3 linked regions of the Homo sapiens genome follow. The protein of the gene in region 1 interacts with the protein of each later gene in a biochemical or structural test. Each region holds a gene or a part of one and is shown on either strand. Other genes may lie near its edges.

Region 1 (10,599 bases):
TGAGGGCCTCAATTATGATAACCTACTGTTTAGGGTATTGAAAACAACGTTCTACAGTCTTACCTTCAATTGGTTTCTTATGTATTTTGTTTCTAGTGAACCTAAATAAATCACCAGGGGCGAGATCTAATGTACTAACATAACTTAAATTACCTAAGCTATTCCCCTTTGTAGAGATTTTAAGAAAAATCTTAAGTAAAGTCATATAGAAAAACAAATGCAAAACTCCCCTGGGGGAAAACAAATGGCTACTTTTTGGGCTGTTAATAATCTTACAATTTTTGTCATTTAAATTTTCCTTAGTTTATGTCTTGTGAAGCTAGAGGGTGTGGAATGATTCCCCAGACAGCTTGAATAAGTCAAAAAGTCTGCTTTGAATGCCTAAAATAAAGATCAGTTACAATTACAAATAGATTTTTTGTTTGATTGCCTTCTGAAATAACTTTCTTTTATTAAAAAACCCATTGCTGTGGATTCTTCAATAACAATTCAAAAAATCTTAGTAGAAAATTGAAATTATATTTCTCTGTATTTATACCACCCCAGAAATAAAACAGCTAGGTTAAGAAAACATTGAGAGACATGTAATAATTTCCTCTAACTGGAAATGTTAACTCAAATGCACATAGGCAAATAATCACCTCAGCCCTGAACATACAGAGGTATTGGTGGAATTAAGACCATAGGCCCTCAATGAGCAACAGAGTTTTGTCAGAACCGATGCTAAAGTATATTCAATCATCATCAGTGCCCTTGGTCAAAAGAAAAAAATAAGTAAATCTAAAACAGTCACAAAAGAAGCAACCTTTGCTTCATTTACTGGGGTGACTAACTCCCCTTGGAAATAATTGGTAAGGCAGCTGGATAAAAACATAGCTCCAGGACCCTGCTCCTAAGAAATATACCTGCGGCTTTTACTATGAAACCAAGAAATATCTGTTACTCTATGCTCTATCTGTAATAGATGCCAACTTTTATTTTCTAATGAACTAGCAGAGCAAACCAAATGTGTGTTTTTAAAAGTCTGCGGTTTCTAAAATGAATTCAGATTCTACCATAAACCAGATGAATTAGCCATATGTATGAGAATTAATAGACTTTATCTGCAAAATCATTAAGTTGCAAAAACAAAGGCACCACAGGAGTTTTAAATTAGACTATTTTTAAGTCTTCCTGAGAACACCTGCCCCTACTTCAAACTGCTAATTTACAAAGCACTTTATTTTAAAGTCTCTTGGATACAGAAAAGAGAAGAATTAGAATGCATAGCAAAAGATTGCAAACATTTCTGTTTCACTCTTGTTTTAAGGTATCAGTCAAGTAACATTATGTTTCAAATTAACTCCAAAGCTGGCAGAAATGTTAGTAAATCTGCTTATCCCTGGTCCACTTTACCAAATATGGATTCAGATTTTAATCATACACATTTTGGAGTGTTTGGAATGTGTTTCTTCTTATCTGTGATTAGAGTCAGGTACACACAGGAAGATGATAGTATCTCTGATAAGGAAACGTTATTTTGTCCATAGGCTAAATAATATTCTTTGGGGGAAGAGATATGAGTTTAAAATGTAAGCCAACAAGTATATTATGAATCAATCTGTCATAGGTATTTTTTTGTTGGGGGGAGCAGATGCCCATTCAGATCATCATACTATTGAATAACTACTAAACGTACCTACTAAGGCCTCGGAAGTTTTATGCTTAACATTAATGGTTAATAGTAAGTAGGAAAAAAGTATTATGCTCTGAAATTTTGGTGGATGTATTGATTACAGTCTTTATTTAGTAATGTTTTAATTTAAGCTTGGCAGCAAAGATTTGTGAGTTTTACTGCAAGTCATCATATTTGCTGTTACAGCAGTGCACAAGCAAAAGACATTAAGTTGGGAGAATATGCAGAGTCTTATATTTTGTTTATTCTTTCAAAGTGAAATTAAACCCTCAGACATTGTTCCAGGCAACTCAAGTTTCAATAACATTCTCCTTTGAGATATTGAGAAAATTGAGTTAAAATTGTTTTTGGGTGCATGAATTTACCATATTGTTGCTTCGATTCTTCATTCACAGTAACATATTTTTTAAGCAACAAAACAATACTGTGCAAAGTTTTTGTTAATTTCCCCTTAGTGGTCAATTGTCAATTTTGTGTAAATGAACAATTTTTTGAGGGTTGACTCTATTAAAATCTTCCTGTTTTACCCTTGTGAAGAAACTGTTTAAAAAACAGATAATATATAAAATTGTAAGTATCATTCTTGGGTGAAGATGAAGCATAAAACTATAGTAATAATTCTTTGTTAATTTTTTCAGCAGTCATTATTTGAATTCTTCTATGTTACTTAACTTTTCAATTGGTGTAGCTTTTATAAGAAACATGCAGATCACATTGATCATATATAATATTTAAAAATATACTTCATTCACTACTTTTTGTCTATCAAATGTGATATAATCACATTAATAATTTTCAAAACAGGATGATGTTAGTCATACGGGAAATCTTTTGGAATTCTGGCACTGTATATTGAGAATTCTTATAAAAATTGAGACTATGATGAAATATTGTGTTTTATTTAAAAATGGATTATAGTCCAAAAGAATTTCCCTAAGTTATGGAAATTAAATCTGGGTAGTACTAAGTCATAAATATAACAACATATTTATCTATTTCCAATTGCTCTAAAAGACACAGAAGCAAAATCCTCAGTATTCATAAATGTTATACACCAGGATAAAGGCATCACACATAATGATTGTATTTGACCATCTTTGGAATGGAAAGGAAGCCCAAACATCAAACCTGATGACTAAACCATTTAGGTGCGATAAAGAGTCCAGTTCATACTTTAGAAAGCTGAGTTAGTATTTTATTTTTCTCCCAAAGCATATATCTGCCTTTATAAGAACCAACCAACCGTATGAATGAGAACTGGAGTCAAGGTTAAAGTAATCTTGCCCAAGAGAGTAGAGTGTGTTTGCATCGGAAAGAAGCAGCGGCTCAGCTCAGATGAATATTAATAACAACCGGAGGCAGCACCTCCCCTGAAAAACATTAGAGCTCCTTGGACATGTGTTTGAAATTCATCCTCCCAAGTCATCCTGTGACTATTGGAGTAGATGGCAATGTCCCATAATGTGAAGGGGGAAAATACACTATAAATCGTTTTTTAAATATAACACTTTAAAAAATGAAACGAAAGTGACAGAGTGTTCTAAGTCAAGCAACCTTTTCAGATGGTAAAGGAAAAGCTTTGTCTTTCCTATTATTGTTTGCCCTTCAGTTGACATACATGCTGAGATGCATCAATAGGATTACAACGGAAACACGGTCATCTCTAGGGTTTCCTCTGTTTCGATTCCTTGATCCTGTTTAAAGAAACAGGCTCAGGGAATGCACAGAAAACAAACTTCCCCAATCGAAGTTCTGAGGTCTTCCCTCCCCTTCTCCCACCTTCGGAAACCGGTCTAGTTTTCCCGGCAGCACCGGACAGAAATGTCACGGTCATGTTGCATCACTTCACTTGTTGAGCTGTGCGAAGGCAGCACTTGACCACAGAAACTTGGTGAACCGCCTTGCTCTTAAATTAGCCCCCAAGAATTCTCTCCAGCCCTATAGAAATGTCTTACCTGCATGTGTCCCTGGTACATTCTGCTTCGGTTTCTTCAGGGCTCCCTGAGGCCACCGGATGCTTTTCCCCCGTGCTTACTTGCCCACCAAAAGAGGGGAAAAGGTGGGTGCACAGCGGGTTCTCAGAGGGTGCTCCTGAGCCCCCTGGAGCTCCGGGTACTCGGCCGGCCGGCGGCCACTCGGCAGCGCTGCGGGCTGCCGGGAACTGTTCTCCGCTCGGGGTGCTGAAAGCGGACGCGGGAGAGCGCGCAGAGAAGGCGAGGAGCCGGGTCGGCCAGGCTCTCCTGCAGGCGCGGGTCCTGCTCGCGGGGCGTCTCTAGAACTCACTCCTTCTTCGCCGAACTCTTTCTCGCTTCCTGCCAGGTTGCCTCATGTCTCTCTCTCTCTGAGCTGCGAACCCCCTCCTCCCAGCCCTGACGTGAGCGCCTACACCAGCCGCCGCCGCAGCTGCCGAGCGGGGCGCGCGCCGTTCTCCCAGCCGCGTGCCTGCCGAGAGGCCGCGGGACCGGGCACGCGCGCGCGTTCCCAGGGGCCTGGGAGCGGCCCGAGGGCGGCCCCGGGCGGTGCGCGCTCCCCGAGCGCGTCCTCGGGGCTGCGCGCGCGCGGCGGCAAGGCGAGGTGCCGGCAGGCGGTGGTCGCGCTGGTGTACAACGCCCGCAGCAGCGCGGCGTTCAGGTGCGGCGTCGGCGGGCAGGGCGATTCTAGCGGAGAGGATGGCCGGCCGGAAGAAAGGCGGGAAGACATGCATCGTCTCTCCGGGGGCCATCCACCGCGGCTGAGCCTGTTATCCTACAGACATTATAGGCTGAGTGCAGGGGTTGCCGAAGAGTTTACTTCGGTTCTGATTCAGCTCTCGAAAGTTACGTCCGTATCACCCGTTAAATAAAGACTCCCCGCTCCCCTCATCCCCAGTTCATCGCCGAGCATTCTATTTAAAACGGCAAACCCTAGTCCCTGAGGATCTGGCATGTTTTATTTTTTTCCCTAGCACGTAACATCACCTAACATCCTTTATATTTTCCATATTTATTTTATGTACTGTCTGTCTCTCCCTCTGTACAATGTTATTTCCATGAGATCAGGGACTTTTTTTTAGGGGGGTGGAGTGTTGCACTTGGTTTTGCACGTGTGTGCACAGTAAGGTATTTAGTACTTCCTGACACATGGCAGGCACACAATAAATATTTGCTGAATGAATAGACCTTTACTACTATACACTTACACACACATACACACATATATGAAGAGTGCATTTAAATATGTCTCAAGTTGAGACTGGGTAGTTTGATGTGTCTACACAATAAATGTTCATATATACACACACACCACGGGGTGGTGTATACTGTGATTACCTAATTTTGTTGGTAAAAACATCTCCAATTCTACAGGCCCCTCATATTATGTACAGCATGATATCCCCAAAATATTGCATATAGCATAATATGCTTTTTATAAAGTTTAAAAAATCCCTAGAAATGTCAATGTGTATTCATATATTCATATACAACAATATAAAAAGGAAAGCAGTGGAACAATGAATATAGTGTTCAGAGTGTTGGTGACCCTGGGTGAAGGGAGGCAGGGAAATAGATGGGGAAGCATTTCACTTGAAGTTTAGATGTTAATGTCTTATCTTCTATGCCGGGTAGTGATTCATAGGACACCTAATATCCTATTAAAAATTACTGTGTAACTAAATAAAATAGAACCATGTATGGACTAATGAGGAGAATGTGAAATGAACAAAAGGATGTGAAATGAACCAATTCAATGCATCTGAGGTCCTAAAACAACCAACCAAACAAACACAAAAGGACTAAGACCTGTAAGCAGGAGACATGGATTCCTATTAGATTCCACTAGTAGTTACCCTTGGACAATTTCCTTTTACTACTTTGGACATCAGTTTTTTCATGTCTAAACTCTGTATAAAAAACTTATTTTTTTTACCCTGAAAATAGAGATATGTTCATAAGCACTGTAAACTGTAAAATGTCATCCAGTTCTTATTTTATTGTTCTTTATAGGACAAAGCACAGGACTTGGAGTCAGCAACAAGAGGTGCTAGTTCCATCTCACTACCTCAATGCTCTCTTGGGCAAGTGTACCAACTCTCTATTTCCTCAATTTTGAAATAAGACAAATATCTACCTAGTGTGCTGCACAGAGCTGCTGAGGACTGAATGTATGCAAAGGAAGTTGTAAATTACCAACCATGATATATGAATATGCAAACAGACTTTTTTTTCCCAGTTCAGAAAAGATGAGGACTGATTTTCTGAGACCTCAAGTACTGCAGATTTTAAAATGGTACTAATTATCATATAATACTATCATGTTATATAAAAACTGGGAAAAGTATAGTGCTTTGATTTAAAAGTACTAGAAATCTGTGAAGTAACAATAGGGTCAAAGTTTTCCAATCCATTATATGCTTGTTATTATCTAACGGCAGGTTCAAGGAGCCAACAACCATAAAAGCATTTGGATCAGAATGGCAACTGCCTAGTGTTGAAGCTAGAACTCAATATATTCTCTTCTTAAACCTGAGTCACTGATTTCGTTACTGCCTACATTCTCAAAATCTCAGGAGTGAAAGCTTTCCTTTGTGAAGAATTCCTCTTCACACTTATTCCTTCTGTTAGAAGATAAACTAAGGCACATTAAAATTTTAAAGGGTTTTTTGAGCAAATAGCCATTCATGCATCAGGCAGCAGCAGACCGAAAGCAGTTGGGGACTCTGTCGGAAGTCGTTAAAGGGAAAGATTTTATAGGGTAAATGTGGAAGCAGAGCAAAGAAATTATTTGGTTAAAGAGGAATACTGGATTTATTTGGATCATTCTAATGGAAAGTCCATAGTTAGAGGTTAGTTTGTGGTTTCTGATTGGTTAAGCTTAACTTTCACTTTCCTAGACTATTTCTTAGACTAGGAATGAGATTTGAATTATCTTTATTTTCCTCAGAAACAATGCATGTCTAATAAGCTAGGTCCAGAAAAATATTTTACAAAAGATTTATTTTGTAATTAAATTTGAAGACCCTTGTTACTCAAAACGTGGTGTGTGGACCAGCAACATCAGCATGTCCTGGGAGCTTGTAAGAAATGCAGACTCTTGGGTGCCATTTCTGACCTACTGAATTAGAATATGCGTTTCAACAAGATCCCCAGGTGCTTGTATGCACCATAAAATTTGACCAGCACTGTGGCCTAGAAGGTTTATTTATTCATGTAAATATGTGGCAAAGCTAGCTCTTGCCTTTTGCAGTGATAACACATGAGCAACCTCAGTACCACTAGAGAAGAAGAATGCATATTGCACTCCATTTATAAAATAATCTCACTGTATTTTGAGTGGTCAGTGGACTTGGCATAAAATCATAGCACATTCAGCTTTCTTACAGCAAGAAATGTGCTTAGTACCACTGCAATTTTAATCACTGTAATACAATTAAATAATTGAGAGGTAGCAGTAGAATCTATTTTGTATTGACAAAATTTAATTTTGCTTATTAGTAAGCGAATCCTCCTGCATTTCAAATGGGTATTGAAAATTCAGGATTTATTAAATCTTTGAAAAAACTTAGTAAAAATGATGAGGTTAGTGTTCTTGTGGACTTAAAAATCAGAGATAAGAGTCTTTTGATGATTCAATCATTCTTTCATAATCTGTAGAATTCAAACTCTGGTGCTGAAAGATGGTGCAGGAGAGAACAAAAGTCAAAATAATTGTAGACCAAAATTAAAATGACTAATTGGTATTTGTTGTTCAATCAGAAGGAGGAACATTTTGTTAAAGTTTGCCCACTTACCCTTTTTGTCTCTTCGACACATAGAATGAGATTAGCTGGTGTTTCAGGGCATTTGATCTGGAAAAAATTTGGGAACCCCAGGCTGCCAGGAAGAATTATGAATAATAAGAGTATGTGGACTCTGATGACGAGGAGATGGCAGCAATGTTCTTCCAAATGAACAAACAAGCTGGATGCTTCAGAGCTGGGCCTCCTATTAAACCAATTTAAGAAATTACACTATATTTGTTTACTCTTTAGGACAATGTTTTTTCAGTGATCCAATATTGCTTTTAATATTAAGTGTACTTTCTAGAGTTTCTTATTCCTGGTGAGAAAACATTTGTGAACAAAAATATTTCTTGCTTTTGACTACTCCTTTCTACTGTTGCCACTGCCATCCTAGCCCAGATTCCCTAAACCTCTTATCACTTAAAGCTAGTTTTATCACCTCCGTTCATCTCCTACATCAACCTGTCATATACATCGCAGCCAGATTAATTTTATAAAGGTCAGCATTAATCACAATGCTGCTCAGGTCAGAAATCTTTAGTGGCTTTCCATTGCCCACTAATGTCCCAAAACTTCAGCTTTTTATTCACAGTCATGGAATATCGTTTGCTGCCCAGAGCAACATCCTCTTCTAGTGGCAGGAAGCCTCTTTTCTCAAGGCTCTTTGCTTTGAATAACCATCTCTTCCTCACTCTGGTCCACTTGTGTGGTAGGAAACATTTTACTACCAGGCTTTGGGGTTGCAACATAGCACCCAGGCTGAGCCAACCAGTGCATTCCGTCCCCATTGGTCACAGTTGGAGATGGGCATATTACCCACGTCAGTCAATCAGGGAAATGAACTCAGCTCCAGGACTACTCGGGAGCAGATTGATTCTTCCTCTGGACTGGATGTTCTACTGATGTTAGCTTGGAACTGCCAGAATCCAGCACACCAACTCTGAAAAGAAAACCAACCTGGGGGAATAATAATCCAGGCAGGCTCCAGGAGACAAAATTTGAGCCACTAAATAAACCACACTTAAAAGCTAGTCTAAAGTAATCTTTATTTCAGCTAGTGCCATCTCTTTTCTGGTTTACTGGATTTTTGGTCACTTGCAACCAAAAGAATACTTATGAATACAGTGGCTTTCCATAGACTGACCCTGTCTTTTTTCAGTTCTGTATGTTCTCTACCTTTTGCAATAACCCTGCTTTTTAATTATTCCCCAAAGTCAGCCCAAGTTATACTCATACTCTTGCCTCTTCTTGGAATGTACTCTCTCTCCCCACTCCTCTTGAATAAAAGCTCATTCATTTATCAAATTTGGTTTCCAATTCCATTTCCTTCCTGAAGCCTTTCTTCATCCTCTAACTGAATACTTCTCTTTGCTGGGAACTTCTTTATGATACGCCAAATGACATTTTTTTAAATTATAGTTTTTCTTTTTTTGTTGTTTTGGAGACAAACAACAAACTGCCGTCTATTGTTTAGACGGCAGTGCGGTGGCATGATCATAGTTCACTGTAGCCTCAAACTCCTTGGCTCAAGTGATCTTCCTGCCTCAGCTTCCTGAGTTGCTGAAACTACAGGCATGCACCACCATGCCTGGCTAATTTTTTTAAAAACCTTTTTTGTAGAGTTAGGGTCTTTTTATGTTGCTCAGGGTAGTCTTGAATTCCTGGCCTCAAGGGAGCCTTGTGACTCATCCTCCCAAAGTGCTGGAATTACAGGTGTGAGCCACTACACCAGGCCCCCAAAATTTTTCTTTTGTTTAGTTATTTCTGTGCTTTTTAACTCTCTATTAGACGTAGGCAGATGTAGAGACAAGAACCTTGTTTTATTCCTTTTTATTCTTAAATAACTTATGAATCATGTATGCAGAAATACCGCCCAAGGTAATTTATAGATTCAATGCCATCCCCATCAAGCTACCAATGACTTTCTTCACAGAATTGGAAAAAACTACTTTAAAGTTCATATGGAACCAAAAAAGAGCCCGCATCGCCAAGTCAATCCTAAGTCAAAAGAACAAAGCTGGAGGCATCACACTACCTGACTTCAAACTATACTACAAGGCTACAGTAACCAAAACAGCATGGTACTGGTACCAAAACAGAGATATAGATCAATGGAACAGAACAGAGCCCTCAGAAGTAATGCCACATATCTACAACTATCTGATTTTTGACAAACCTGAGAAAAACAAGCAATGGGGAAAGGATTCCCTATTTAATAAATGGTGCTGGGGAAACTGGCTAGCCATATGTAGAAAGCTGAAACTGGATCCCTTCCTTACACCTTATACAAAAATTAATTCAAGAGGGATTAAAGACTTAAACGTTAGACCTAAAACCATAAATACCCTAGAAGAAAACCTAGGCATTACCATTCAGGACATAGGCATGGGCAAGGACTTCATGTCTAAAACACCAAAAGCAATGGCAACAAAAGCCAAAATTGACAAATGGGATCTCATTAAACTAAAGAGCTTCTGCACAGCAAAAGAAACTACCATCAGAGTGAACAGGCAACCTACAGAATGGGAGAAAATTTTCGCAACCTACTCATCTGACAAAGGGCTAATATCCAGAATCTACAATGAACTCCAACAAATTTACAAGAAAAAAACAAACAACCCCATCAAAAGGTGGGCAAAGGACATGAACAGACACTTCTCAAAAGAAGACATTTATGCAGCCAAAAAACACATGAAAAAATGCTCACCATCACTGGCCATCAGAGAAATGCAAATCCAAACCACAATGAGATACCATCTCACACCAGTTAGAATGGCAATCACTAAAAGGTCAGGAAACAAGAGGTGCTGGAGAGGATGTGGAGAAATAGGAACACTTTTATACTGTTGGTGGGACTACAAACTAGTTCAACCATTGTGGAAGTCAGTGTGGCAATTCCTCAGGGATCTAGAACTAGAAATACCATTTGACCCAGCCATCCCATTACTGGGTATATACCCAAAGGACTATAAATCATGCTGCTATAAAGACACATGCAAACGTATGTTTATTGCGGCACTATTCACAATAGCAAAGACTTGGAACCAACCCAAATGTCCAACAATGATAGACTGGATTAAGAAAATGTGGCACATATACACCAGGGAATACTATGCAGCCATAAAAAATGATGAGTTCGTGTCCTTTGTAGGGACATGGATGAAAT
Region 2 (10,190 bases), on another chromosome or scaffold:
TAGAGAGTCCCTCTGTACATGTGGAATATCACTTTCTTCATACTGATCTCATTGGGAATATACAAACTACATTAGACATGCCTATATCTAAACCTCTGGTCTAGCTTTGTTTGATCATAGGACTTTCTAAGCCAATGTTTGGACTCATTTTGGCTTCTGCCTAGATTATACCATCTGCTTTCTGCCTTCCAGAATTCATAAAATCGTCTTTCTAATCATCACCCCTTTCTTTTTTCAACTCCTTTGTGGACATTTTATTCCATTTTCTGCATCTCTTTTGTTTTTGTTTTTTTTCTTTATTTCTTATTTCAGAGGATTGGAGTGGGAAGGATAAGGTATACTGTGTTTCAGCCTTGCATTTAAACCAAAAGTCTCAACCATGTTTTTTTGTTGTTGTTGTTGTCTTTTTTGAGACGGAGTCTCACTCTGTCGCCAGGCTGGAGTGCAGTGGCACAATCTCGGCTCACTGCAACCTCTGCCTCCCAGGTTCAAGTGATTCTCCTGCCTCAGCCTCCCGAGTAGCTGGGACTACAGGCGCCTGCCACCAAGCCCAGCTAATTTTTGTATTTTTAGTAGAGACGGGGTTTCACCATGTTAGCCAGGATGGTCTCGATCTCTTGACCTCGTGATTCACCCACCTCGGCCTCCCAAAGTGCTGGGATTACAGGCGTGAGCCACTGCGCCTGGCCTTCTCAACTGTTTTTTTTTTTTTTAAAACAAAACAAAACAAAAAAACATTATTTTAAGATTGAGTATTGGCAGTCGGATATTTTTGTCAGAAGGAATTTGCTGATATAATAGAAAATGCTGCTAATAATTGTTTTTTCACACCATGAGACTTGTTTTAAGTTGTGGGAAGCCTTAATGGCTTTTAAAAGAAAATGATCAAACAAGTCATTCTTCTTTGTTGTTTGTTTTTATAGAGATTTGCCTGCTGACCAAAGGACGTCGTACTGCCAGTGTTCGAGCTGATACATATTGTCGTCTTTACTCACTTTCCGTGGACAATTTCAACGAGGTCCTGGAGGAATATCCAATGATGAGGAGAGCCTTTGAGACAGTTGCCATTGACCGACTAGATCGAATAGGTACTCTAGTTTTCTACCTTCTTTATATAAAATTTAATCTCCTGGCATAATACAGGTTTGCAATTATAAGTCCCAAATGCAGTGGGGAGTGGTGACTCATGCCTGTAATCCCATCACTTTGGGAGGCCAAGGCAGGTGGATCATTTGAGGTCAGGAGTTCGAGACCAGCCTGGCCAACATGGTGAAACCCTGTCTCTACTAAAAATACAAAAATTAGCCGGGTGTGGTGGCGTGCACCTGTAATCCCAGCCACTCAGAAGGCTGAGGCAGGAGAATCTCTTGAGCCTGGGAGGTGGAGGTTGCCCTGAACCAAGATGGTACCACTGCACTCCCGTCTGGGAGAGAGAGTGAAACCTTGTCTCAGAGAAAAAAAAAAAAAAAAAATCCCACATGCCAGTTTATAGCTTGCTTGTTAATTTGTGTAGAAATAGCAATTAGCTGTAGCCGTATTTCTTGAGAGATCTGGGTCCCTATCTATCTCTTCTAAGTATTCTGGGTTTATTTATTAATGTCTATTTTTGCTAGCTAAACAAACTGATTTCCCGACTGATGCCAAAACAATTTGAATCTTCAGGTAAAAAGCAATGATAAAAATTCTAGATAGCATTGAAATAGAACTAAAAATATGATATATGAGTCTATATTACAAACTAAGTTTTATCACTTTTTTTGTATTTTTGGATCAACTTTACATTTTATCTTTATATTAGGAATTGAAAATTTGCACATTTAAATTAATCTCAGCAGAGACATAATAAAATGTTTGTAATATAGACTCAAGCAGAAAAAAAAAGCCTTGATAGTAATGCCCTACATAGATGCTTTACCTCGCAAACATCAACATATTTTAAAGTCTTTTCTGCTACCAAATAAAAAAATATATATATACAACCATTAGGCCTTATTAGTTATGCTAGTTTGAAGATTTGCATAATTGCCATAGTAAAGTTAGCTTGGATTGGCTTGCTGTTAACATTCCTAGATATCCTGGAACATTATGTTGTAAGGTAGTATGCATTCATTTTCCACACCTAAACCCTCTTTGCCACCCTCCCCTTCTCTACTTTTTTTTGGTCAGCTCGACTCTGCTCAACCTTCCTCTCTCTGTTTAGATATCACCTCCCTCTAGAAACCTTCTCTGACCTCCCACTCCCTACTAAGCCCAGTTCCTTGGATGCATTCTCCTATAGCCTCTGAAGCTCCCCCATCACAGCACTGCTTTTATTACTGGCTCTAGAGATGCTAAATTTGTCAATGTAGAGCTCATGTTTAATTCACCATTACATTCACAGTACCTAGTATACAATGAATATTTGTTGAAGAGAGGTAGGAAGGGAGGAAGGAATAAATGAACTCAAAAAAGATGGGGCTGGGATCACTTGTGATAAACAAGGAGGTACCTCAACTGCTTCATTCTTATTAAAGGTAAGGACTTCAGATTGATAAATTGTTATGTTGGCTTTTTTTCTGCACTTCACATTCACATCTTCCTTTCTCTCTATATTAGTAGGACAGCAGACTGCATAGAGATCTGAAAATAGATTAGAAGTAAAGGCAGTATTTGGACATCATCATTAGATATAACAAACGTATTAGAAATTCATATTGAAATCTTAGAGATTTAACAAGACCTACTCATTCAGGGAGACAATACCCACAAAAGAAGTAGGCACTCCTGAAGGCATCCTTACTTAATTGGAAAATAACTTCCCTCTTTGTAGTGTGTGAGTGTTTATGTTAGAGACAGAGACTAATTTCTAAGCAATGAGTTTCTTCCTAAACCAGCTAGACATCCTTAGAGAAAACATTAAAATCAGGATATTTCACTAGATAATTTCTGTTAATCTGATACAGCTTCACTTTCATCTAACTTATTGCAGTTAATTTTTTTTTTTTTTTAAGACAGAATCTTGCTCTGTTGCCCAGGCTGGAGTGCAGTGGTGTGATCTCGGCTCACTGCAGCCTCCGCCTCCCAGGTTCAAGCAATTCTCCTGCCTCAGCCTCCTGAGTAGCTGGGACTGCAGGTGTGCACTGCCACGCCCTGCTAATATTTTGTATTTTTAGTAGAGACGGGGTTTCACCATGTTGGCCAGGACGGTCTTGACCTCCTAACCTCATGATCCACCCATCTCAGCCTCCCACAGTGCTGGAATTACAGGCATGAGCCACCGCGCCCAGCCTGCAGTTAATTTTTATAACAATATTTACATGAAATGGTTCGTAATCAATACAGGCAATGCAATTTCTAATAGGCACTAAGCAATTGAATTTTTGATCTTTATAACATAGTAAGAGTGTATTAAAAGTTACATTATTTTTCCCAAGGTTAAAGATACTTAGATTAAGATATTTTGACTGTTCACATAATCAGAAAGAAACATTATGCTTCTCGGTTTTGTGGCCATTGCATATAGATGTATGCTGCAGTTAGTTAAGCAAATATGCTAAATAAGCATTTATATTTATTACTAATGTAGGAGTTTTTGTTCTTTGGGAAATTAGGACAGTCTGTAAGTAGGGAGAGGTAACTATTTTGGCAGTCATTTAAAATGATTGCATTCCTAGCAGTCAATGAAATTACAATACATATTTATCTTCAAAAATATATTTTGTTACCTTTAATGTGTTAGTTTATTTAGCAATATCGCAAATTGATTCACTTTTCAGTTACCATATTCACTTGGAGATTAGTGTATCAATGATGCCATAGAAAAGTCACTACTTTCCCCTTCTTTCACCAATCCACTATTCATTCTAATAATTATTATGCCAGAGACTGTCTAGTATTGCAAACCACTCAGAAGATGATGGCAGGAAAAGCTGTATTGCAAACCACTCAGAAGATGATGGCAGGAAAAGGTAAAATTTATTGAGGTCTTAGAGGGAGCTGAGAGCCTGCAATGCACTATGCCCTTGGTCCTCACAACAACCATTCAGAAGAGGAAAGATCATAAAGTCAGTCTCAGTCTTGGCTGCATTTAAGAATTCCCTGGGGAAGCTGGGCGTGGTGGCTCACGCCTGTAATCCCAGCACTTTGGGAGGCCGAGGCGGGTGGATCACAAGGTCATGAGATGGAGACCATCCTGGCTAACATGGTGAAACCCCATCTCTACTAAAAATACAAAAAATTAACCGGGCACGGTGGCGGGCACCTGTAGTCCCAGCTACTCAGGAGGCTAAGGCAGGAGAATGGCATGAACCCGGGAGGCAGAGCTTGCAGTGAGCTGGGATGGTGCCACTGCAACTCCAGCCTGGGCATCAGAGCGAGACTCCGTCTCAAAAAAATAAATAAATAAAATAAAATAAATAAATAATAAATTTTAAAAAAAGAATTTCCTGGGGAAATTTGCTTTTAAACTACTGAAATTCAGAGCCCATGTATGATTATTTAGATTTAATTGGTAGGGAACAAGTGGATGTTAGTATTTTTTAAAGCTCCAGAGATAAGAAAAATATCCAACTAGGACTGAGAATGACTGGTGTAAGACACTGGGTCAAAAGCAAAACCTGATACAGTCCTCCTCAGATTTGCATTTGGGAATCACCTGGGGATCTTAGTAAAATGCAACATCTGATTCAGCAAGTGGGGTCAGGCCCAGGAGGCTGAGTTTCTAGCAAGCACACAGATGAGACAGGGGCAGTTGGTTCATTTTCCATAGCAAGGATGTGCAATCACTTTTTTGTGTATATGGTCTTTCTCAGCCCTGTTACCTGCCAACCATGTTTTTTTTTTGTTTTCCTGGGCACTGTTCTTAGTCTTCTCATGTCCTGATCTCCTTTCAGGTAAAATGAGATTATGAACACACCTATCTGACAGGGTCGCGGGTTACATAAAATCATCTACCTAAGGTCTTTTGTAGAGTGCTTATCACATAGTACGTGTTCAAATGTTCTCGCTTATGTCTCCATGGTCCTTTCTTGAAAAAGTAACTTTAAAATCAAATGTTGATTCCAAGCCCATCCTATTCCAAAAGCCCTTTCTTCCCCCATTCTTCAAGGTGGCCCTCATGTTAAATATCTCCATTTCTTCTGTAAAGTGGCTCTTTGCCATATTACAGGCCGTTCAACTTGAGTAGAAGGTAAGAGTTCCCAGAGAAATACAGGAAGTGTGAAAGGTAGGAGCCACATTGGTATTTGGTGTGTAAAGGTGAGTGACTGGCTTTTTAAGCCTCTCCTGTGAAGCACAGCTATACTTCTGTTTGCAGGAGCCACTCTCACTTGGCGTTGTCATCAGTCATTGGTAGGCTTTCTAAGTGCCTATCTTTCTTTTGCTGACAGGAAAGAAAAATTCAATTCTTCTGCAAAAGTTCCAGAAGGATCTGAACACTGGTGTTTTCAACAATCAGGAGAACGAAATCCTCAAGCAGATTGTGAAACATGACAGGGAGATGGTGCAGGCAATCGCTCCCATCAATTATCCTCAAATGACAACCCTGAATTCCACATCGTCTACTACGACCCCGACCTCCCGCATGAGGACACAATCTCCACCGGTGTACACAGCGACCAGCCTGTCTCACAGCAACCTGCACTCCCCCAGTCCCAGCACACAGACCCCCCAGCCATCAGCCATCCTGTCACCCTGCTCCTACACCACCGCGGTCTGCAGCCCTCCTGTACAGAGCCCTCTGGCCGCTCGAACTTTCCACTATGCCTCCCCCACCGCCTCCCAGCTGTCACTCATGCAACAGCAGCCGCAGCAGCAGGTACAGCAGTCCCAGCCGCCGCAGACTCAGCCACAGCAGCCGTCCCCGCAGCCACAGACACCTGGCAGCTCCACGCCGAAAAATGAAGTGCACAAGAGCACGCAGGCGCTTCACAACACCAACCTGACCCGGGAAGTCAGGCCACTCTCCGCCTCGCAGCCCTCGCTGCCCCATGAGGTGTCCACTCTGATTTCCAGACCTCATCCCACTGTGGGCGAGTCCCTGGCCTCCATCCCTCAACCCGTGACGGCGGTCCCCGGAACGGGCCTTCAGGCAGGGGGCAGGAGCACTGTCCCGCAGCGCGTCACCCTCTTCCGACAGATGTCGTCGGGAGCCATCCCCCCGAACCGAGGAGTCCCTCCAGCACCCCCTCCACCAGCAGCTGCTCTTCCAAGAGAATCTTCCTCAGTCTTAAACACAGACCCAGACGCAGAAAAGCCACGATTTGCTTCAAATTTATGATCCCTGCTGATTGTCAAAGCAGAAAGAAATACTCTCATAAACTGAGACTATACTCAGATCTTATTTTATTCTATCTCCTGATAGATCCCTCTAGCCTACTATGAAGAGATATTTTAGACAGCTGTGGCCTACACGTGAAATGTAAAAATATATATACATATACTATAAAATATATATCTAAATTCCCAAGAGAGGGTCAAAAGACCTGTTTAGCATTCAGTGTTATATGTCTTCCTTTCTTTAAATCATTAAAGGATTTAAAATGTCGTTGTAAGATTATTTATTTCTAACCTACTTTTACTTAAGTCCTTTGATATGTATATTTCTCTATTTTATGAAGAGTTCTTGGATTCAATGGAAACAAAACTGATTTTAAAAAGGCAACTCAAATGAACTAGTAAATAGCACCAATCAAAACTTTCTTTCATTAGCTGTGTCTCTGCATCTAAATTGTTAATCATTAATGGTGGAGAATTAAATAACAAATCCCATTTTATAGATCTAAATTGTATTTCGGTGCTTTCAATTTCAAATTAGGTTAAAGAATGCACTACTTGCTTGGCCACCGTAGGAGACTAGCATTGCCACTGTTTGTTAAGAATATCACTAACCTCAAACATGTTCATTGATCTTTCAGAAAGCTGAGGGAAAATTAATATTTGTCTTCATGTGTTATCGGACTTTTACCAAGACTCGATCAATGTTAGTTGTAAATAACTTTTTCAACCCAAATAAAAATAGCTATTCTGTGTTGTATGAAGGTAAAAGTCATTGTTTAAGAATTTAGTTTTATTGCTTCACTTCAAAACTTAGAGTTTTAAATTTTACAAAACCTGATTGTGAGAATTATTCAATTGTAATGCAATGGCTTGAAACCTACAATATTATTTTAACCTGCAATGTTTTATGCAAAATTGTATGCTCGAATCTACAAATTGCTTGTATTACACCAAAAATCGTTACTTTTCTTTCTTCTTGCCATAATCAAGCATCTGAAAATAGTCCCTGCATGCTTCTGGGGAAAAAAAAATAGGTTCAAATCAGTCATTGTAGAGAAAGGCTTACAGTATTTCTCGTTTCTAGAAAAGCATAACAATTCATTAATTGCCTATCTTATAATTCCTATAAGGCTGACTTGGATCTCTGACTTAAGTCTAGAAGTGAGGTTTTCACTTTTATTTAATATTATTGCTATTATTATTTAAATAATTATTTGTAAACCACAGCTTGATTTGGAGTTAAGTGTTGTCTGTGTCTTCACTGTAGCTGGTAATTTACTATGGTATTAATTTAAAGAAATAAATTCAATACAGCATCACGTCTGTTTGGGAACACACATTTTGCTCTATGTATATTGTAACTAAATGGTTAGTAAACTTTAAGGCATGTGGTGACTAACGTAGCCCTTAGATAGGAGGTTTGTCATTTTTAATGTGTTGAAAATAGTACAGACATGGTGACAGAAAGCAGGGGTAAAGTTGAACGTCTATGAGCATTGTCTGTCTGTTTTCTTAACTCTTTACATGATCTGTGAGCACCTGCTTCTTCTCAAAGAACTCCCTTAGTAATCATTTGTGCCTAATGCATCCCACACATGTGGAGTATGACTGGAACACAATTGAAAGATTCCTAACAACTGGCTGCGGTAAATAACCCAAGTTAAGAGCATGACTTAAAGTGGAGGTCTTCAGTATCTCTGGCACTGGCAATACATTTAAGAACATACAGAGATCACACATTATGTGGGACAGGGCCTGCAGATAGACTTGAGGACAGAAAACAAAAACAAAAGCAGAAACTCTAAAGTGGATCCTTGCTGCCTGTTATGCCTTTTGTGGATATAATACCTATAATACCAAAATGAGTTGTTATGTTTAATTTCAAACAAATCCCAACTGGTGTGGAAGTAATTAACTGCTAGTCGATGTAATGTAATCATCAATATGCTGGTGACATATGATGGCATGTCAGGAATACTGTTGTAAGAAAGGGATTGTTCAGTCTACCTAGAACCTATGGGAAAGCTGCAAGACCATTTACATATCAGTACAAAACTCCTTTATTTTATTAAAATATGAGAATTAACTTCAATTTATTAAGATTACGTATTGGTCCTTTAAATTATTAAAGGTTTACATTTGATAGGATTAATGGATTTGGTAGTGAAATATTTTTATATATATAAATTTTTGGTTTTTTATTTTGAGCACTATTGGGAAACATAAGCAAAATTGAAATGCATGGTCTTTCAGTGCAACCATACAATTTTTATTCACTTTGTAATAGAATGGACAAAAAAACTAAGGTTTATATATTAAACTAATAAAAAGGTACAGGGTAAATTATATACATATATGTATGAATGTATATATACTTAGATTAAGAAAAAAAAATGACTCACATTCCTGTAATATAAAGGTCCATTGCTAGTTGAAAAGTGACCTCTTTTCTCTGTACATAGTGAAGCCCGTATGTATGGAGTTTTAATCTGTACAGAAAGAAATGTATTATTCATTGGTCTTTCTGCTGCTGGAAAGATAATAGAATAGCTGATTCTTACAACAACTGTATGATCAGGGATGAGTTAGAGTATTTCTTTTGTCTTTGCTCAAAGCCATACATATATAAATATATATAAAGATTATTAATAAATTCAACAAAAAATAAACTACAATCATGAATATTTTATTTTATCAATATATGCTAATCAAATGTTTTATTTTATTAATGAGTACAGCTTTGCCTCTATTTTTACATCATAAAATTTCCAAGAGCTTATACTTGATAATCACATAAAATCAATTATATTCTATAATTCTGGAATGAGAGGACTTTAAATAGAACATGGATTTTTCAACCACTTCTTTGTTTACCTTTTTCGTATAGTAAAATATGAGCTTATTTTCTTTTTTGCTCTGTGCCTTTTTAGAATGTGGTTGTTCTCCAACTTCAAAACACAACCATTTTGTGTAATTATTGGATATACAGATGAGAAATAATTTTCCTGTAATAATGGTAAATAATTGTCCTGTAATATATTTATACAAACCTATTTTGTTATAATAGTTCTATGACATACCTATTTTGTTATAATAGTTTTATAACATACCTATTTTGTTATAATAGGGCCTTGGGCTCTATTATAACAAAACAGGTTTATATAAATACATTCATATTTATAGCCTTAAACAAAATAGGTTTGTATAGTAGGCCCAAGGCCCTATTATAACAAAATAGGTTTGTATAAATATATTCATATTTATAGCCTTGGGCCCTGCAAAGTTATTTGGAGAGTGATAGAACCTCCCCACACAAGTGGGTTTTAAATGATACCTAAAAGCCTGAGATAGAGTTTATCATAATGAGAATAAGTAGTGAAGCATTCCTGAAAACAAGGAGGATAAATAGTAGCAATGGCAATATATTCTATTCACCAAAAAAGTAGCTTGTCTCCAGGTCTGGATGACCTCTTCATAAGTGAACAATTCCCTGATGAATGCTGTTCCACTTTAAAGAGATGGTTATTTTGCAATTTATAAACTTAACTGAGCATACTATTTTCAGGACACTACAAAGTACATAGTCAAGTTATTACCGTCATTCCTATAGGACAGAGAATGATTTAAACAATATGACATGTTTAAAATTTTAGATGATTTATTTCAAATCCTGAATTATGTCTACTTCAAATTATGAGCAATCTCTATTATCTTTCAGGACTATTTAAAAAATCTCCATACCTCCTCTTTCAGCTTAGGTTTTTATATTTGTTAATTTTACTATGTTACTTTGCTTCTATGGCCCTCACTTGCACTGTTTATAATGTTAACCTGTTTGAATGAGATATCTCTCCATTATATCTTTATCTTTTTAGAACATGTGCCATAAAACCCATGTGGTTATTTTGTTCATATGCACTACAACTAGCAAACTT
Region 3 (10,190 bases), on another chromosome or scaffold:
AGACCACAAAATGCAAACATTCTCCTGTTAATTACTCTCTCAAATTTGGACTGTAATTGAGGGAACTAGAGCTGGGGAGAGTGTAGAAACCCGTTGGAGTGGCAGGCCCGCCCGAGTCAGCATTCCCAGCCGCCTTGCACCCGCTCTGTTAATTTTAGAAACTCCTCCAGCCTGGGTGTATTATTAGCTTTATGTACAGAGGGCCACATAGCCCTCAGTGGCCTTTCTATGCACAGTTAAAAAATTTGTTTTCTTTTGTTTTTCCCAGGAGATTAAATGAAGAGGGATGACAGCAGAGTGTATAGAGGGGTGTTTGTGCACTGTGTGTGTGAATGGGGATACCTGCGTGTGGCATCTAATGAGTGTACACAGCTGTCTTTGAGTGAGGTCTATGTGGCTGGGTAGAGCATGCACGGCTCTAGGGCACCCCATAGATGCTGAAACCATCCTCCTGGGGCCCATGACTCATTAGCAGGTGTGCTGCATTCTTTGTAGTAAAGTGTGAAGCTGAGGATGGGTCCTCAGGCCTTAGTTGGGTTCTCTCAGCTGGCATATGGGTACTGGGGCCACAGGAAGGAGTGGTGGGTCATGGGGTAGAGAGGAGCTGAAGTTGGCCTCTTGGCATCCGGCCTTATCCCCCATAAGGCCCTGTCTTGAGGCCCTGAAGAGCTTGGCTTTCAAAGGAGCTGCAGAAAGCTGACTCTCTGGAAACTGCCCTTTGCCACACAGTGTGATGTAGGACAGCCATCTCACCCACCTTCAGCAAAACAGGCCCTACCCTCTCCTTGAATCACAGCCCCATTTTGAGTCTGGCAAACAAACAAACAATTTGCTATGAAGTAATTTCTTTGCAACCTGGAACTCTGCAGGCAGGGGCACTTTGGTTTACAGTGAGACCCTCTGAAGACTCGAGGAAAGCTTATCTCTTTCTTTCCCACTTCCTTCCTCCTGGCTTCCCTGCAGTAAAGAATCAAAGATGGTGGAAAGGTTATTTCTCCTGGGAGAAGACATGCTTATTTCTGCCTCACTTAATACCTTTATCTGTTATTGTGTAAATGTCTAAATTAATAGCAGAGGGAAACAGCTCTGCAGTGCAAGTTTTTGGTCTTGGGGCCAGCCCTGGGATGGCTGGTGCTTGGGCAGGGTCCCTGGGAATAACTGGCCATGCCTTCTGGATTGGGGTCTTGGCCACCTGTGTTGTTTCCACACTCCAGAAGGCCCCCTGCTTGGTGAGTTGGGAGAAACCCACCACAGACCTGTGAGTTGGTGTTGTGCCTCCTCCTCATGCTGCTCAACTTCTCCAAGGCTTTGCCCTGAGGCTCCCTCTACAAACGACTTGAAGGTGCCTGAGGCCTTAGGAGAAATGATTCTGGAAGCCCTGGGCTGGTCTCTTTCTATCACATTGAGTGGTATCTCACTGGTGCCTGAAATCCCCCCATTAATTATTCTTGTTTTGAAGCTATCTCTCCCCCTCCACACCCCCATGTTAGGATGCAAACCTCTGAGGGAAGGAGATGGTCAGACATTTTCTGATTATAGGGGATGGACTAAAGGTGGATGCCAGAGAACCAGTTTGGGAGAGGGCCAGATCAGAATGATAGGACTCATTACACAGTGAGGAAACTGAGGCCCAGAATAGGGAGGCCCTTCCGGATGTCACATAGCATGTTGATGACAAAGCTGGGGCCGGAGCCTGGGCCTCCTGCCTTCCAGGCACCTGAGTCATGTCTGTACCTCCCCTGCTCTTTGGTCATGGTCTGTGGAATGTCTCCCTGACAGCCCATCTCAAGCCACAGCTGACCCTCAGGGAGGATGGGGCAGCCTAGCCTGAGCCTGGGGTGGTGTGGGGTGAGCTGCTCCTTTTGCTAAAACAGCCTCTTGCTTCTCTCTGAGTGTCACTGATTTGCTTTTCAGCCTGACTCTTACTGCGGGCTGGGGATGGGAGGAGGAAGCTTGTTGTTGGGGCTCGGGGAAACTCACAGAAGGGCAGCACGGAGGGTATCCTTAGTGAATGAAGAGCCTCTTATTGTGTCATTCCCTGTGCCAATCTCCACATCTTGCCCTGGTACCCATGTGCCTGTCTTCCTGTCTCAGAACCTCCCAAGACTTCTCTGTCCCAGATGCTGTCCCTCAGATCTTCCTCCCTTAGTCTGTAACTTGTCCTCTCTCTCTTCCTGGCGACTGACCCCTGTGTCTCTGGGCAGATTTTACTGGGACCTGACCATGCTGCTGCTGATGGTGGGAAACCTGATTATCATTCCTGTGGGCATCACCTTCTTCAAGGATGAGAACACCACACCCTGGATTGTCTTCAATGTGGTGTCAGACACATTCTTCCTCATCGACTTGGTCCTCAACTTCCGCACAGGGATCGTGGTGGAGGACAACACAGAGATCATCCTGGACCCGCAGCGGATTAAAATGAAGTACCTGAAAAGCTGGTTCATGGTAGATTTCATTTCCTCCATCCCCGTGGACTACATCTTCCTCATTGTGGAGACACGCATCGACTCGGAGGTCTACAAGACTGCCCGGGCCCTGCGCATTGTCCGCTTCACGAAGATCCTCAGCCTCTTACGCCTGTTACGCCTCTCCCGCCTCATTCGATATATTCACCAGTGGGAAGAGGTAAGTGGTCAGTGCAAACCTCTTGGGGGAAAGGCCACTCCCCACAGAGGGAGTGAGGAACTGGCAGGGAACCTCAGATAATTGAACATAGGCTGTCAGATTGTGGCAGGCACACCTGCTCCAAGAGGACAAATACTAGTAAGTTCTTGACCTCTTATCATGTGCTGGATACTTTACATGCAGTATCTCAATGAAGTGTGTAACAGCTATAGAGGGAACCATATAGGTACATGTATATACTCATTTTTCACCTGAAGAAACAGACAGAAATATTAAGTGACTTATACAAGGTTGCATGATTAGTAATTTGTGAACCTGGAATGTGAACTTAAGCCGATCACCTCTAGAGCCCACATTATTAACCACTGCGTTATGTTGTAGGGTTTGTAAACCCATAAACTTGTTGGGGACAGGCAGGGAATAGGGATGGGTGAAAAGGGCCAGTTGGGGGACAGTAGACAGTGTGGTGGATGAGAAGAACTAGAGAACATCTCCGTTATATTGGGTGGCCTCTATGCAGCTCCAGCTAATTTTTGTCAAGTGGGAATGGGCCCAGGGTTGCTAGATCTATAGCATTATGAGAAATGGAAATCTGGATTTTTATACAAATTTTGTTGGCAACTCTCTTAGTTTGGGTTCTTCCTGAGCAGAACCTGAGACAAAGATTTGCATGAAAGGGATGTTTTGGGGATGCATTCCCAGGAAAATCTGGTAAGGGGACTGGGGAGAGGGACAGGGAAAGGCAGGAAGCCAAGCAATGGTTGGACATTGGAGGGTGTCCTGTGGATGGCTGTTTGCCTCAGCCCTATGGGATCTGAGGATAGTGTGCGCCACACCTTGGAGTTGTCCCAGTCAGGGCAAGGGAGTTGGAATGTTTATATCCCCTTACCTGTCAGTCATTGGTTCAAGGCACTGCCAGCCCTCAGCACTCACAGCCAAAGCAGTTTCCAGCAGCCCGGGCAGGCCTCTGACAAAAGGTGCGGCCGCTGGCTGTAGAGAGTGAAATCACGCGGGCAAGTTGGAGTCTTGTGCTCAGAAACTGTAAAGGGATCCTAGGGGCTGTGAACACTGGCTACAGGAGGAAAATAAAACATTGAAAAAGAACTGGGCGGACCAACTGCATTGTGAACAAACCTCACTCATCCATGGGCTGAAGCAGTCATCTGCAGCAGAGGAGCTAAGGGCTTTGCTGGGAGGAAGAGCAGCTGACCTTGCCAAGTGCTTCGGTCTGTGTCTGCCACCCACCCAAGTTACACAACTTGGCAGCAGCGGCAGGCAGGCCAGCCTGGAGGGCCTACTCTCTCTGTGAGACAGCCCACCTTGGATCCCTGCCACCTGTGGGCGGGACAAGCTTCCATGGAGGGCCATTTCCCGCTCCATCCCTGTGCCGCGTGGCTGACTTCCCAGCCTCCAGGACCCCCTGCTTGCCTGGCAGAAGTTCCCATGTTCAGGACATGAAGCCCCCCATGCTCACCCCCAGCAGCAGCCTGGGCCTCGACTGGCAGCACCTATGGCTGATGGTCAGAGGCGTCATGAACGCATGTGCCATAGGAGAAGTGTGTGCACCAGTTTGGCAGCGTCCCTCCATGGCAGAAATTCTCTTTGGCTTGGAAAATTCACATTACTTATGCTGACAGAGAGGGGCCGTGACTCTCCCAAGGTCATGCAGTTAGACCTCTGGTAGAACTGGGACAGAATCCAGCTAGCCCTCTTGGCCCCCAGCACATAGTGTGGGCTGTCCCACCCCGGTGTAGTGGAATGGCGCATTTAAGACCCAAGTTAAAATCCCGGCTCCACACTGCCTAGCATGTAGCTTTGGGTCCACTTTGCCTCTCTGTGCCTCAGTCTCTTTATCTGCAAAATAGGTATAAGTTGTACCTGATGTTTATAAAGCCTTAGCATGAAGCCTGGTGCAGAAGAACTGTTTAATATGTGTCCCTCCTGGCCGGGCGCGGTGGCTCACGCCTGTAATCCTAGCACTTTGGGAGGCCGAGATGGGTGGATTGCTTGAGGCCAGGAGTTCAAAACCAGCCTGGCCAACGTGGTGAAACCCCGTCTCTACTAAAAATACAAAAAATTAGCCAGGCGTGGTGGTGGGCGCCTGTAATCCCAGCTACTCGGGAGGCTGAAATAAGAGAATTGCTTGAACCCAGGAGGCAGAGGTTGCAGAGTGAGCCAAGATCGCACCACTGTACTCCAGCCTGGGCAACAAGAGTGAAACTCCGTCTCAAAAAAATAAATAAATAGATGTTATTTATATTTATAATATATATATATTTATACACACACACACACACACACACACACACACACACCTACCTCCCTCCCCACCAAGTTGTCTTAGTAACATTTCCTTGGTTCCCCATACTTAGCTGTCAAGAGAAACAGGGCAAGATTTATGATCCTCATGTGTCAAGTGAGGAAACTGAAGATCAGAAAGGCCAGCCGCCCCAGTGGTAGGGCTTTTGGCCTAGGCCTCCTGTCTTCCTGTTCCATGCACTTCCCGCCTTCTCAGATGGAAAGGGAATGACTTTGATTCTACGATTGTTTCCTTTCATGGCTGGGGCCCCTCCATGGGGGACTGGACTTCATTCAGTCCAGCAAGTGCTTGCCGGGCACCCACCTGTGCTGGCCTGGGTGGGCGCTGGGATCAAAGGACTAGGACGACTGTTGGCAGAGAGTGGGAGGGCAGTGGCAGGGGAGGAGATCTGTGCAACAGGTTGAGTTGGAGGTGCCTGTGAGACAGAGATGTGCAGAGATGTGGCAGGTGGTCTGAGCTGAGGGCTGAGAGGGGACAGTGACTCTGGAGGGTGCGGCTGGGTCCACTCTGAGGGGCTGTGAAGGAAAGATGGAGGCGTGTTTCCCCTCATGCTCTGACACACTTGTCTCCTGGTTTCCGTCGCAGGTGGAAATGTAGGACCAGGTTGGCTCCCTCAGACCCTGAGAAACCCCCAACCTTCTGCATGTCTTGGACCCACAGCTAGACTGCCATGAAAAGCAGAGACACGCCAGCTCTTTCCCTCCTCCAGCATCCATTCGTGTCTCCAGGCCTCAGCCTCCCAGGGGCTGACCTTACTCCTCCAGGGCCTGAGGGCTGTGGTCTTTTGTAGGAGTTGGCAGAGATGCCAGTGGCTGGACAGGGTGAGTCGTGGGTTGGAGCTAAGCTTGTCTTTCACGTCCCCACATTATGCATCCTGGGAGCTCAGGCCCAGGGCTCCTGTCCCCACTGCCACCCTGGCCAGGCCACCCTCTTGGGCACCCAGAACTGGTCAGGCGCTGGTCCTGGCCTTTCTCTGGGGGAGGCAGAGGCCCCAGGAGGCCTTGAGTCAGGCCTCTGAACTAGACGTGCCGCCCCATCTCGTGGGGAGGAAGAAGATCCCAGGAGGCCAGATGGATGACTCTCACCCTTCCACACACAAACCTTTATCTCTCCTACCAGCTGGGAAGAAAATTGCTTTGAGCTAGTTTCTGCCGGGCACACTGGCCAGCCTAGGGCTCTCACTGGACCCCTGAGATTGGACTGGGGTTTCCCAGCTGGCCCCAGGAACCCTGTCTCCAGGACCATAGCAGGCCACTCCAGCCCGGGGGCTTCTCCCACCTCTGCTTGGCCCAGAGGCAGCAGCAGAAAGACCCTTTGGAGCCCTAGGTCCACATGAGAGCTGAGGAGAGTATTTAGTACAGAAAACCCTGCCCTAATCTCCTCTTTCAAGTCCCTCTATGAGTCTCTTTCCTCCTTTGGGCCTCAGTTTCCCCACTTGTGAGGCACATAATGATGTTCTCTGAAGCTGTGGCTCCCTGGGGCCCAGTCCCCAGCTCCCATCTGCCTTGGCAAGGTTTATGTTAGCTGATTCTGAAGACCTTGTTGTAGCTCACGGAACGTGAAGGAGGATGCCCTCGGTTGGGGCTAGGGAGCTTGCCTCCCACAGACTGGGGAAAGCTTGCCCCAGGCTGCCTGGCACTGCAAGAAGCTAGACTCCTGACCCCAGGCTTCTACTGCCTCCCCCAGCCGGGCCCAGACCAGGCCCCCAGGAGATCTCCTAAGTGTTGGTGGCAGTCAGGCAGTCTTGTGAGTCAGCGCAGGTGGGCCACCATCTTGGAGGATGCAAGCCTCTTGCCTCCATCCTGGGCGATCTGGGTCAGCAGACTCCCTCCCGAGCCTCTCCAGCCATGCCTCCTCCCTCCCTCCGAGGTGTGAGCTTGTTCCAGGCATGGAGGCTATTGTTAGAAACCATGGTTACCCTTCTTTGGACGTTACCCTGCAAGGCTCAGCACTCCAGTGACCCATCCCAGAAGTCTCTCCTCTCCCTTGGCAGCCTGAAGTGGCCAAAGAGGGGCTGGAGGCAGAAGGCCAGCTGGGGCTGCTGTGTGGCCTCTGATGAGTCCCCTCATCCTGTAGACCTTGATTGCCTCATCTCAGAATCAGGTGCTTGGCATCTGCGAGAAGTGGAGATGACACAAGGAGAGGTCCTGGGGCGTGGGTACTGGCCCTGTCTCCTGCACCCAGGATGGGACCCGGCATGACCCTCAGTGCAGCTGCCTTCAAACTGCACCCAGCATGCATATGCAGCAGCCTGTTCTGCCAGGCCTGGGGTTGCTGTCTTCAACGCAGACACTTGTTCTTGAGACACAGGTGGAAGTTGTTCTTCCATGAGGAGAAAATGAATCCACAGGAGAGGATTCAATCAGGCCCCAGGAAGAGGCCTTGGTGGAAACAGCAGCAGCCAGACCTCCAATTTCTGGCCTCTCCTTGGGACTGAGAAATCAACTCTTTGTTGGGAGGGCTGGGAAAGAGAGGGAAGGAAAGGAACCAACATGTCCTGAGTGCCTACCATGTGCTAGTGGTGGATATGATCTCACCTGACCCCCATGATAGCCCTGAGATCTGGCAATTACCCATTCCACAGATGAGGAAACTGAGGCTCGGGGTGGAAAAGGCAGTGGCTCTGTCCTTGCACTGCAGTTGAGAAACTGCAGAAGGAGTGAGAGCAGGGCTTCCCCAAGTTCCATGTGTGGCAGAGTGAGCTGCCTGGACCGCCTGACGGGCAAGGCTTGTAGTGGCCTGGAAATGAAGGTGCTCAACCCCTGCAGTCAGAACCAACATCGTAAGAGGGAGTTCTAATGAAATATAAAGAGCAAGGCAAATATTTGCCTGGTGCAACTGACTCTCCGGTGGCCTGTGGCCCCAGCCAACAGTGGGGACACACCAGTGTTTAGCAGCCTCTCCCAGCAACGTCCAGCCTTGTTCTCGGCAACCACTTCCCAGGTGCTGGAGAGTGGTGCAGGTGAGGTGAGTGTCCTCAAATCTAGGGCACCCCCTAACCTGAATGGATGTGCCCCCACCAGCTCTTCCCAGGCAGCTCAGACTGTGCGTTGTTGGCGCTCCAGCTTTGTGGTGTCTAAAAACCACCTGAAACACACCTCTCCAGCCCTGCCACCTGCACCCACCACCCCAGTGCCCACAGTCCTCCTCACCGCAGTTCCAGGCTTCACCACCACCATGCTCTCAGTAGGACACGGAAGTCTGTGTCCCCTGCAGGAGAAGGCACCTTGGTTCTTCCCACAGGGACAAGGGTAGGTTCCCTGTGGGCTGCATCTGCCCAGAGCGGGTACCTTTTTGTTCTTCCACTGTCTACACTAGCAGGAGCCCTGCTGACCACCATTCTCGTCACTGTCACCATTGCCTTCACCTTCATCACGAAGCCCTTCTCAGTTCCTGAAACCTTACCACATGCTCTGTGCCGTGTTCATTGCTGAGATCACGATAAAGGCACAATTAGACAAGGACCTGATCTTAGAAGAAAAGGAGTAATGAAAAGATAAAGGCGATACAGAAGGAAAGGAGGTCATTGCAGGAAAACATGCCACCTTCGATGCTCTGTCTTTAAGGCCCAGCGTGATCTGTCCAAAGGAGCAGTTACTGTGGCCTGTGACAGTCTGGGACTCTTTCTAGCCATGCCCGGAGGCTTCCTTGAGCTCCCATATGGTACCCACTCATTCATTTAGATGTACGCGCATTTATTCAGGCAATCAGCAGATATTTTTGATGCCTGCTTGTGCTAAGCATGGAGGAACACAGAAGTGAGAAGTAGAGAGGAGCCCTGCCTCGTGCAGCAGCACGCAAGTCAGTGAATGTCATTTCAGATAGTGAGAACTCCAGGAAGGAAATTCATCAGGGCAAAGAGTCACAGTGAGAATGGGAAGGGAGAGCCCTTGGCTGTGTCACACACAGGGATCCAGTGTCCTTCCTTTCCATGGAAGTGGCTTTTGAGCCAAGACAGGATGACAAGAAGGAGCTGGAGGCAGCACGCAGGCAGATGGAAGAGCAAGCCCAGTACTGAGGGCCTGGGGCAAGCACGAACTGGCCTGGGGCATTCAAGGACATGAAGGAAGGCCGCTGTGGCCAGAGATGGCTTTGGGCAGAGTCAGGGAGGCCGGTAGTTGGGAGCCGAGATGCCGAGGGCCACAGTTGGCATTTGGAGTGTATTCATGGGTGCAGTGGGAAGTCATTGGAAGGTTTATGGTAAGAGAGTGACATGGTCTGATTTATGTCTCCAAGAGGTCTTTCTAGCTGCTTGGTTGAGAGTGGCTTGGAGGGGCGGGGAGCCTCATCAAGAGGTTGGGGCTGTCATCTTGCGGGTGTTTAGATTGGGGTCATATTGGGATTGGAGGGAAGTAAATGGCTTTGAGATGTCCACTTAGGCAGTAGAGCCAAAACCACCTGGATTGATGGGATGTGGGGAGGGATGAGAGACTCACTCACGGCTGGCTGGTGGGTTTTTGTTGCTCAGCCTCACGAACAGCGACACCAATTGTGAGATGGAAACAGGTTTTGGATGTGTCCACGTAGAGATAGACCGAGACAGCTGGACATACGAGCCAATTTGTGTTACTCTGAGTCCACCTGTGTGTCTTAGGCATGACAGAAGCAAGGAACTGGGGGTATCCCAGGGCTTGAAAGAGGAGCACAGGGAAGGTTGCCTTCATCAGAGGAGGAGCATTGCCGGTCTCCACAGCCCCTTGTGATGGCGGCAACACAGTTGCATCCTGGGGAGCCCTTTAGCCAGGGAGACCCCACTCAGGGTGCTTCCAGAGATGCCCTAGACTTTGATACCCTCCTCAACTAAAGAAACTTTCAGCAGAATTCCTGCTGCCTTGACAAGCCAGGGGTGGGAGGAGAACGGCATGCTTGTGGCTGTGGGCTCTGCTACCAGCCGTGCTGTCCAGCCCCACAGCAGCATCTGGGCTGGGGGTGCTCAGAGCCTGGACCAGCCTCTCTACTCACCTCCCCATTGTGCCCTGCTTGCCTTCCTCTGTTGCTGGGTTTCTATATACATGTTCCCAAGTCCCTTTCCTGGGTGCGGCTTCCTTCCCCAGCCAGACTATGAGCTCTGGGCAAGCAAGGGCAAGACTTTCCTCCCTGACCCCCATAGGGAGGGGGGCTTTCTTGGGCACTGACACAGGCTGACTTCCAGGGGACATGGCATAGACATTTGGGTCTTTCTAAGGGTACTGCCCCGAGACCCAGGAAAGAAGGGCCCCACTGGCCCCCACTCCGGAAGGCT

Evidence for each region.
Region 2: the proteins of PEX5L (region 1) and HCN1 form a complex in vitro, tested with the Homo sapiens proteins (one study listed by BioGRID).
Region 3: the proteins of PEX5L (region 1) and HCN4 interact in a biophysical measurement, tested with the Homo sapiens proteins (one study listed by IntAct).

Annotation. Positions count from the first base shown.
Region 1 is NC_000003.12:180,032,949-180,043,547, forward strand, and holds the start of PEX5L (PEX5-related protein), read right to left. Parts: upstream 3,990-10,599; 5' UTR 3,652-3,989; coding exon 3,631-3,651; intron 1-3,630. UniProt on the Homo sapiens protein: Accessory subunit of hyperpolarization-activated cyclic nucleotide-gated (HCN) channels, regulating their cell-surface expression and cyclic nucleotide dependence.
Region 2 is NC_000005.10:45,257,987-45,268,176, reverse strand, and holds part of HCN1 (potassium/sodium hyperpolarization-activated cyclic nucleotide-gated channel 1), read left to right. Parts: intron 1-923; coding exon 924-1,088; intron 1,089-5,366; coding exon 5,367-6,256; 3' UTR 6,257-10,190. UniProt on the Homo sapiens protein: Hyperpolarization-activated ion channel that are permeable to sodium and potassium ions. Displays lower selectivity for K(+) over Na(+) ions.
Region 3 is NC_000015.10:73,335,823-73,346,012, reverse strand, and holds part of HCN4 (potassium/sodium hyperpolarization-activated cyclic nucleotide-gated channel 4), read left to right. Parts: intron 1-828; exon of another isoform or gene 829-957; intron 958-2,204; coding exon 2,205-2,628; exon of another isoform or gene 2,629-2,743; intron 2,744-3,517; exon of another isoform or gene 3,518-3,700; intron 3,701-4,947; exon of another isoform or gene 4,948-5,000; intron 5,001-10,190. UniProt on the Homo sapiens protein: Hyperpolarization-activated ion channel that are permeable to Na(+) and K(+) ions with very slow activation and inactivation. Exhibits higher selectivity for K(+) over Na(+) ions.